Linked DNA regions of Homo sapiens: all the other regions are linked to region 1. The links come from fine-mapping of genetic effects on gene expression. A gene starts in region 1. Each other region holds a variant in brackets. All regions are shown on one strand. Distances are between the middles of the regions.

Evidence for each region.
Region 2: its variant is fine-mapped to the expression of RCBTB2 in whole blood (TOPMed, PIP above 0.99).
Region 3: its variant is fine-mapped to the expression of RCBTB2 in whole blood (TOPMed, PIP above 0.99).

Annotation. Positions count from the first base shown.
Region 1 is chr13:48,531,841-48,534,606 of GRCh38, forward strand. RCBTB2 (RCC1 and BTB domain containing protein 2) reads right to left here and starts at 1,240. Exons shown (of 15, transcript NM_001268.4): 1 at 1,188-1,240. LOC124903174 (a long non-coding RNA gene) reads left to right here. Exons shown (of 2, transcript XR_007063795.1): 1 at 1-209. RefSeq lists an enhancer at 616-855 and silencers at 896-1,295, 1,406-1,455.
Region 2 is chr13:48,560,636-48,563,401 of GRCh38, forward strand. No RefSeq gene overlaps it. Among named protein-coding and RNA genes, the nearest start is that of LINC00462, 19 kb to the right of the region's middle. RefSeq lists an enhancer at 961-1,060. The variant C/T (reference allele first, on the strand shown) is at 1,611.
Region 3 is chr13:48,490,949-48,493,714 of GRCh38, forward strand. The region is part of intron 14 of RCBTB2 (RCC1 and BTB domain containing protein 2); the gene reads right to left. Among named protein-coding and RNA genes, the nearest start is that of RCBTB2, 41 kb to the right of the region's middle. RefSeq lists an enhancer at 2,533-2,612. The variant C/T (reference allele first, on the strand shown) is at 1,590.

The sequences.
Region 1 (2,766 bases):
GTTAGAAACTCTTCACAGTAGCCCCAGGAGTCACGAAACTGACTTAACTAAGACCCACTGTCTAGTAAGGTGTAAAACCCAGCAGGAACGCAATACTAGGAAGGTGCAAAGCCAGGAGGCTCAATAAACGTTAAACAGTGTCTGGGGGAAAGAGCAACGATCCAGAGCACTGTTTGTGAACTCAACCACTTTTATTCAGCTCTGACAAGGTAAGTCGCCAAGCGCGGTACAAAGTAGCTCCATGAAATGCGTTTTGTTATAGTCCTGGTCTCGAACTGTTGCAACATTTTATGTAATTTTTGCAAAGAACAAAAGCAAAAAGTTCATTCTAAATTAGCCTTCCAACTCAGTTCTTTCTCCGCCAAGACGGAGCACTTGGAAAGTTTTCAATGTCTGAAAACCTCTATTTCCAGGGCTGAGCAGAGCACTATGTTGCGGCTTAAGACGCTCGGCGATTTCTTCCCATCCCTCCGCAGTTCCAAAACGGCTTCGCCTAACAAAGTCAAACTTTTCGCGCTATTCCTGGACATCAGGACCAAATGTCGAAAGCATATACTGCCACTGAGTTAGTGAGCCGGGCCGGTGCCCGGGACCTGGGGTACTAGATTTATGGGACGGGAGCCTAGGGGTCGAGGCCACAGAAATGAAAACATCGGCAACATATGCAGTGCAGCGAGTGGGTTAGGAGGGAGAAACTTCAGGCAGGACGCTCCCTCGGGACCTGTGACGCCCCCCCAGCCACACCAGACGTGGGAGCTTAGGATGAGAGCGGCCTCCGAGCAGATGATCACCCTGGAACGACGCCAAACGCGACCCCTACCAGAGGACTCGCGCATGCGCAGCGCAGCCTGGGCCGGCGGCCTGGGCAGGATGTAGTCGCGAGCAGCGCACCGGGCCCACGCCAGCGGAATTGCGCATGCGCAGGGCCGCCTCTGCCTGCGGCCTGGGCTGGGTGTAGCCCCGGAACCTAGCTCTTAACTCCCGCCAGCAGTTTTACGCATGCGCGACGACGCCTAGGCCTGTGGCACGGTCGCGGCTCTAGTCCCCTGGGCCCCTCAGCTGTCTCTGGCGGGGAGGTCGGGCCGCAGGGGCGGGGAGGGGTGGCCTGCCCCAGTGGTACCTGACAGCATCCCACGTCACGGCCGCGATCCCCCTCGGCCTCCCACACCACTCCTCCACCCTCTTACCTCCTCGCAGGCCGGAGCCTTGTCCGCTCCGCCTCCTGGGTAGCGGTTACTGCACGGTCAGGGGCCCGGCGCCGCGATGAGTTGGCGCCTCCCCCTGAAACGGCCCGGCCTCGGCGGGATGCGCTCGGGTGCCCGGCCGAGACGGAAACGAAGGGAGCGCAGACAAGAGGAGGGGGCTGGCGACGGCGTCTCGCCCCTCCTCTCCTCCCTAGGCTGCCCACCGCCGCCCCTCCCCTTTCTCGCAGACGCCCCCTCCCCTCGGAGTTGACCCCCGGGAGTCTCCCATTGGGGCCGCCTCCGCTTTTCCAGGGAGTTCCTCCGTGGGTCACCCCCACCTTCTCCAGGGTTATGTTCTCGCAAATTTTGGGAATTTGTGGATACCCGACCTAGAAGGATAAGGCGTGTATGATGCTGAGAGCAACCTTTTCCACAGCCCCTCTCCTCCAGCCTGCCCCAGCTTTTCTTCTATTGCTGGCCCCTCTATCTGGGGGCTCCGATCACTTCACGTTTTCACCCCATTGCTGTGGGGCGGAAGTCTTGTAGCCCCCTGTAGTACAAATGCTGAAATAATGAGGATGTGTGCTGGGGGGTTCAGGGGGATGACCTCAGTTACCTTGGGGCCAAGGGCTTCGAAAACAGCCACCTTCTCCCCTTATGATTATATTTTGCAGTAATTTATTATATTACACTGCACTTCTGTTGGCCTTTGTAGATTTAAGTAAAATGCACCACAACTTTGCAGTGTGCAATAATTTCTTCCACTGCACTACACTTAAATTGACCTGAGTGGGTTTTGGTTAAATGCTCAACAATTAAATGTTATTAGCTATTCCTGTGAAGTAAGCTACTTGCTTTTATACTGGCTGTTTCATGAGGACACTGGTTCCTCTACAGTGTAGAGCCAAAAGTAGTAAAGCCAAAGAGAAAAACTAACATTCCAAACCACAGTGACCGTGTCAGTCTGTTTCGTCTGGCTTTTGTCATTTCTTCGGAAAAACATCATTCTAAAATGTATAACTGCCTTTCTGCTACATAGGGCAGACATTTATCTCTATTCTCTGAGCATAGCCCACTGAGCCTCAGAAGGAGGCACGCAAAATGGTACACAGGTATTTCTTGTAGAGCTCTAAATGGAAGAAAAAGTAAGTATACATTAACAGGAAGTTGCAGCGATAGTGCAGAGAGGCATCGTGTGCCTGCCCCAAGTTTCTCCACTGGTTACATCTTATCAATGAAAGAAATTTATGAGTTAAACAGGTTTGCTCTCAGAAAAAGCTCACTTCAGTGATGATAGCTGGCATTTTTTTTTTAAGCACCTATTGTGTGCCAAGAGGTTTATCTTATTTGGAGCTCACAATAATCCTGTAAGGCAAGGATTATCCTTACTTTACAGATAAGGCAACTCAGGCCCCAAGAGATTAAGTTTCTTTCATCAGCAACCATGGCAAGATCTGTTTGCCTTGCGCACTTGGTCTTTTACGCATTATGGACAGCTGAAGTTCATGCAGGCCTTACGGTGTGCTTCAGCTGAAGCCTGACAATTAGCTAACAATAAAAACATGTCTTAGTGTTTTGAAAA
Region 2 (2,766 bases), 29 kb after region 1:
TCTATAAAAATGCTCTATTAAATAATCTATACATCTTAATTTTTATCTAAAATTCTATTTTATACCCTTTACCTGATTTCTTACACAGGGTTACAAGGTAAACTTATTTTGCAGGTTATTTCTGAAAGAGGAAAGAAAATAGTAAGATGGATAAATGTGCTACTAACTAACAAGTAGTAAAACGACCCTTCTCGGTTCTGGTGTTTTTTCAGCTGAGTCAGTTATATTAAGAATCATCTTCTCTGCCGGACTCACTCCTATAATCACAACACTTTGGGAGGCCAAGGTGAGAGACTGCTTGAGCTCAGGAGTTCAAGGTCAGCCTATGCAACATAGCAAGACCTGCAACAACAACAAAAACTAGCCAGGTGGGGTGGGGCTTACTTGTAGTCCCAGCTACTCGGGAGGCTGAGATAGGAGGATCGCTTGAGCCCAGGAGGTAGAGGCTGCGGTGAGCCATGATTGTGCCACAGCAGACAGAGTGAGACCCGAACGAAAAAAAAAAATTATCTTCTATAATTAAAAGAGTATGGTTGTAAAGAAGACACTTCCCTCGAATGTGGTCAGGCAGCATTTTCTTGGTAATTAAATGGTTAGGATCTTTTTTTCTTAGAATTCATATTGTACATGGCATCATGTGACTGAAGGGACATTTCTCTTGAAGTCTATCTGTACTATCTTTCTACAGCTGCAAAATTGTTCTCTCCACTGCACTTGTAGTAATGATGATTACTATTATTAATACTAATAGCCCCAACAACATTATGCAGTATAATGGCTCCAGTGATTATACTGAGAAGTTTGATGGAATTATTTTCCTGAGCTCATTCTAAAATTTCTTCTTGCTCAATATTATCTTGTTATTTCTGTTCATTTGTCCCTTACAATCTCCTACCTATTATTTCCCTGTAATTAGAAGCTCATGGGGGTGAGGCTTTTTCATTTTGGTTTCCTCTTCACTGCCTGGAGCACTGTGGGCACGGTTTCACTTTTGATGTTGACATCTTCAAATGGAGACTAGTGGCTTCACAAGTTAGGACAGTCACTGCATCAACCAGGACTAATTTGATAATATTCCTCAAGCTCATTATAATATTGGCTCTTTCCCAAACACCTTGATTTTTTGAGAGATTAGTACTAAGAAACCAGACTTACTCATTCCATTAAGACTTTGAAAATCCAACCCAAAATGCTCAGTCATTTTTTGTGACTCTATTTGCAGTAATATTTAATTTTTAAAATATTTAAGGTCATGATAAATTTGTCATTTACCAAGTAAACATTGATAAATATTGATATTACTATTTTTAGGTTTATTGTTATGTAGCATCTGAATCAGTGAATTTACACACTCTTAATCAGGGGAATAAAGTACACAAAAAAATTCAGCAGCAATTGCACCATTTACTGCTCTGATGTTTTTGAAAAAGGAAGTAAGTGACTGAGATACACAAAACAACCCATGCAACTTGAAGCAAATGTATCTAAACTACAGTAAAGTGACAGGAAAAATAAACTAGATGTTGCTCCTGAAAGGACCATTTTCTCTACTGGACCTGTCAAAACAGTGAACCCAATGACAGTGTTTAGAAAATGTTCACTGAAATGGA[C/T]TCACAGACCAAAAGTATACAGAAACCTGCTGTTGAAAGCTATTCTTTCAGGATGACGATGATAAATCAAAAAACAAGTCTACTGCAAATAGAAATTATGTGGACCAGTGTCTTCTTCACTGAATATCACCTTCATAGAAAATGTGATACACCCTGATTTGAGATGTTTAGTCGCTTATCTGCAGGAAGCAACACTCACCTCAGAGAAGGAAACCTCAAACCACTCGCATGAGAGTTAGCTCCCATAGAGGTAGTGAGAGCTGCCTCTGAACCACAGAAGTACTTACTCATGCAAAGTGTGGCTTCATATTTGAACCAGGGAGATTCAGGTGTGGGTTTCTGTTCTGCCATGGAGTAAACCTCTCTGCCCAAAATTGCAGACTCAAACTTGGTACAATTTCCTCAGACCAACTAAATAATACGCCTAAGCTTGGACAAAGTCTATGGGAACACCAAAAAATTTTTTAATGATTTCTTACCTGAAGGGAGAAGGAACCTAATTATAGTAGTGTCATACAGGGTAAAGGTGGACAAGGTTAATATAATACAGCAGATGTGGCTTGAAACTGGGCAGTGGAGGCTGCAGAACAAGGGCTCCTGACCATTGCAGCTGTCTAGATTAACTTAGATGTTAGGCAATGCCATTTCCCATCTCTGTCTAGAATGATAGGCCTCTTCAACCACAATGGTCTCTTTGCCTTGAATTCTTCCTATCAGATTTCTTTTTCAATGATATCTCTACTCAAGATTGCTGAAACCAAAAGCAACTGGCAGAAAACATTTTATTTCCAGCAATACTTGACTATCTCCTCTATTGGTCAAAATGGTTTCAAATGCAATCAGTTCTTCATTTAAATCAGGCCGGGCACGGTGGCTTACACCTGTAATCCCAGCACTTTGGGAGGCCGAGGCGGGTGGATCACCTGAGGTCAGGAGTTCAAGACCAGCCTGGCTAACATGGCAAAACCCTGTCTCTACTAAAATACAAAAATTAGCCGGGTGTGGTGGTGCATGCCTGTAGTCCCAGCTACTCGGGAGTCTGAGGCAAGAGAATCACTTGAATCTGGGAGGTGGAGATTGCAGTGAGCCTAGACTGCGCCACTGCACTCCAGCCTGGGCAACAGAGCAAGACTCTGTCTCAAAAAAAAAAAAAAAA
Region 3 (2,766 bases), 41 kb before region 1:
TTAGAACTATAACTTGAAAATCAGAATGAGGCTGACCAGATGCTTTTTGGCCCTGGAGAAGTGAGGGCAGGGTGCTGAGACCTCCAATATGCCTCAAACCCTAGGCTACTTGGCCTAGGACAAGATGCTGCTAGGTGGTGGTCAATTTTTAAAAGTTTCCTCTCCAAGCTACTGTAGGTAATTTATAAAAAATAAAAGCCCCAAATACTTTCTAAGCAATTACATATGAACATTACACACGATAGTCTTTTCTTCTTTAGACATAAATTATAGCAAATGCTGAAGATGGAAAAAATAAAAAAAATAGCAATGCTGATAGCCTTGCCAATGTACATATAAACCTACGGTACATTTTCTTTTAAGAAAAGAAAGAAACTATACTAGGAAAATGTTTATTTCATGCCTGAAGATAACTGGGCAGGCTGTTGGTACCACACCAGCAATATGATGTGTCTCTGTCCCAGGTAAGCCCTCAGTGATAAACAGGGAAAATTCACACACCCACTTGTCATCACAGCATACTATACATAAAAATGTGCTTCAATGATACATGCTGAATATCTCAGAGTCCATTTAAAATTATGTGCTGTTGCTTAAATTTTTAGAAATGACATTTTTGCCTACAGCACACAAAAGTGAAACCAGATAGAGATGCATCATCTCTTTGGCTGAAGTCTACAGAGAGGAATGGAGGAATTCATACCTACACCACACACATTAGAGTGTGTCTGGAGTTAGGTGGCTGGGCAGTTTGATGCCTCACAGATCTGGACAGCATCAGGAAAATTGCTAATTAATGGGAGAATGAAAGGACCCTAAAAAGTTATCACTTGGATCCATGCTCCTTTACTTTATTCTAGAGTGGGATCTTCCCCTAAATACTAAATTAAGGACAGGACTTGGAAAGAGTTCCTGTGATTCTAAGAATTCAATAAATTGGCATAGGGTGGTGGTACTGGTTATAGGGGAATTCTGTCCATAGAAAACAAGGCCCCCATTATTTTTCAGTTAAAGAATTGTAGTCTATTTTGAATGCTACCACTCTGTATGGCTTCATGTTCAAAATGGGGCCCTCTGTTCTGTCCTGCAGTCCTACCACATTCTCCTAGTTTGCTCATTCTCCTACAGGACTCTCATACTTCTCCCCATAAGCCTGACATCTCCCCTCTCATCCTCATCCTCAGCTGACATGACTTCCTATTTCACTGAGAACCAGAATCACTTGAAAAGAACCTCCACAAGCTCTCCCCACCACGTCTCCTTGCCTATTACAGAGAGGCCTGTGGATGCAATCTTCTCTGGATCAAAGGTCCAAGACCCTATAGAAAGCAGAGCCCTTGCTCTGTCACTAGATCCCACTGCTCCACCTACTAAGGGGCCCTGCTCTACCAACTGTCCCCTGCATCACTGGCTTGTTCCCCTTCACTGAGTCATTTGCATCATTAGACAAGCTTCCATTTCCCACATCTTAAAAAAGTAAAGATGTTTTACCTCAAATGCCCCAAAGCTCTTCCTTTTTATCTTTATAATAAAATTACCATGAAAAGCTGCCTCTATTCCCCATCTTCAGTTCCTCTACTTCCACGCTC[C/T]GATCAGACTTCCCGCCTCACTGCGCTAAAACTGCTTGCCAAGGCCCCTCCGGCGTTCTCATCGCCAAACCCACTCGTCAGTTCTCAGTCCTCGTGCAGACGTGCCAGCAGCATCTGGTGTGGTTCGGACTTCTTCCTTCCTGTTTCGCTTTCTTTCCCAGCCTGCAGGAAACGGTCTGCTGGTTTCTCTCTTCCGTTACTGCTCACTCCTCTTCAGTCTCCTTTGCTGGTGTCTCCTTATCTCCTTAACCTCTAAGCACAGAGTGCTCAGGACTTAATCTTCAAACCTGTCTCACGTCACTGCCTCATAGCTTTGACTTCAGCACATTTCTCTCTGACTTCCAGGCTTGCTTATCCAATTTGCTTATTAGACATTTCCATTTGGATGTCTAATAGACATCACATACTTCTCATATTCAAAACCAAATTTCTGATATTTCCCCCAAAATGTTGCTCCTATCTTCTATATCTCAATAGATGCCACTTTCATCCTTACAGCTGCTGAGGGACAGAACCTCCTCAGTCGTCTTTTTTTTCCTCACATCTAATCCATCCGCACATCCTGTTGGCTCTACTTTCAAAATGTATTCAAAATCTTAACCACTTTTTACCATCCCCACAGGTGATAACTTGGACCAATCCACCATCATCACTTACTGGATTATACAGCCTCCTAAGTACCCTCCTTCACACACACACACACACACACACACACACACACACTCTTCTCTCTCTCACCCTCTCTCTCTCTCCACACACACACACACACACACACACACTCTCTCTCTCTCTCTCTCTCTCTCTTCTCTTCTCTCTCTCACCCTCTCTCTCTCTCCCTACCTCCCTCCCTCCCTCCTCAACACAGCAGCCAGGAGGCAGGAGGATTACTTCAAATGCCCATCATATCTGCTCCTCTCCAAACCCTCTGATGGCCACTCACCTTGGAACTCTGATTCCTGAAACTTGCCTATGGACTCTGCAGGCCCTGCCTCCTCCCACACACGCCACTGTGCACCTCCACCGCACCATCTCCCTGCCTCATCAGCTACTTCCCTCCCCACTGTGCTCCCTCCACACCGGGCTTGCTTTTCCCAGAACACACCACCCACACCTCCTTCAGGTCTCTGCTTGAGTCACCTGCTCACTGATGTCTTGCCTCCCTGACCATTCTATTTAA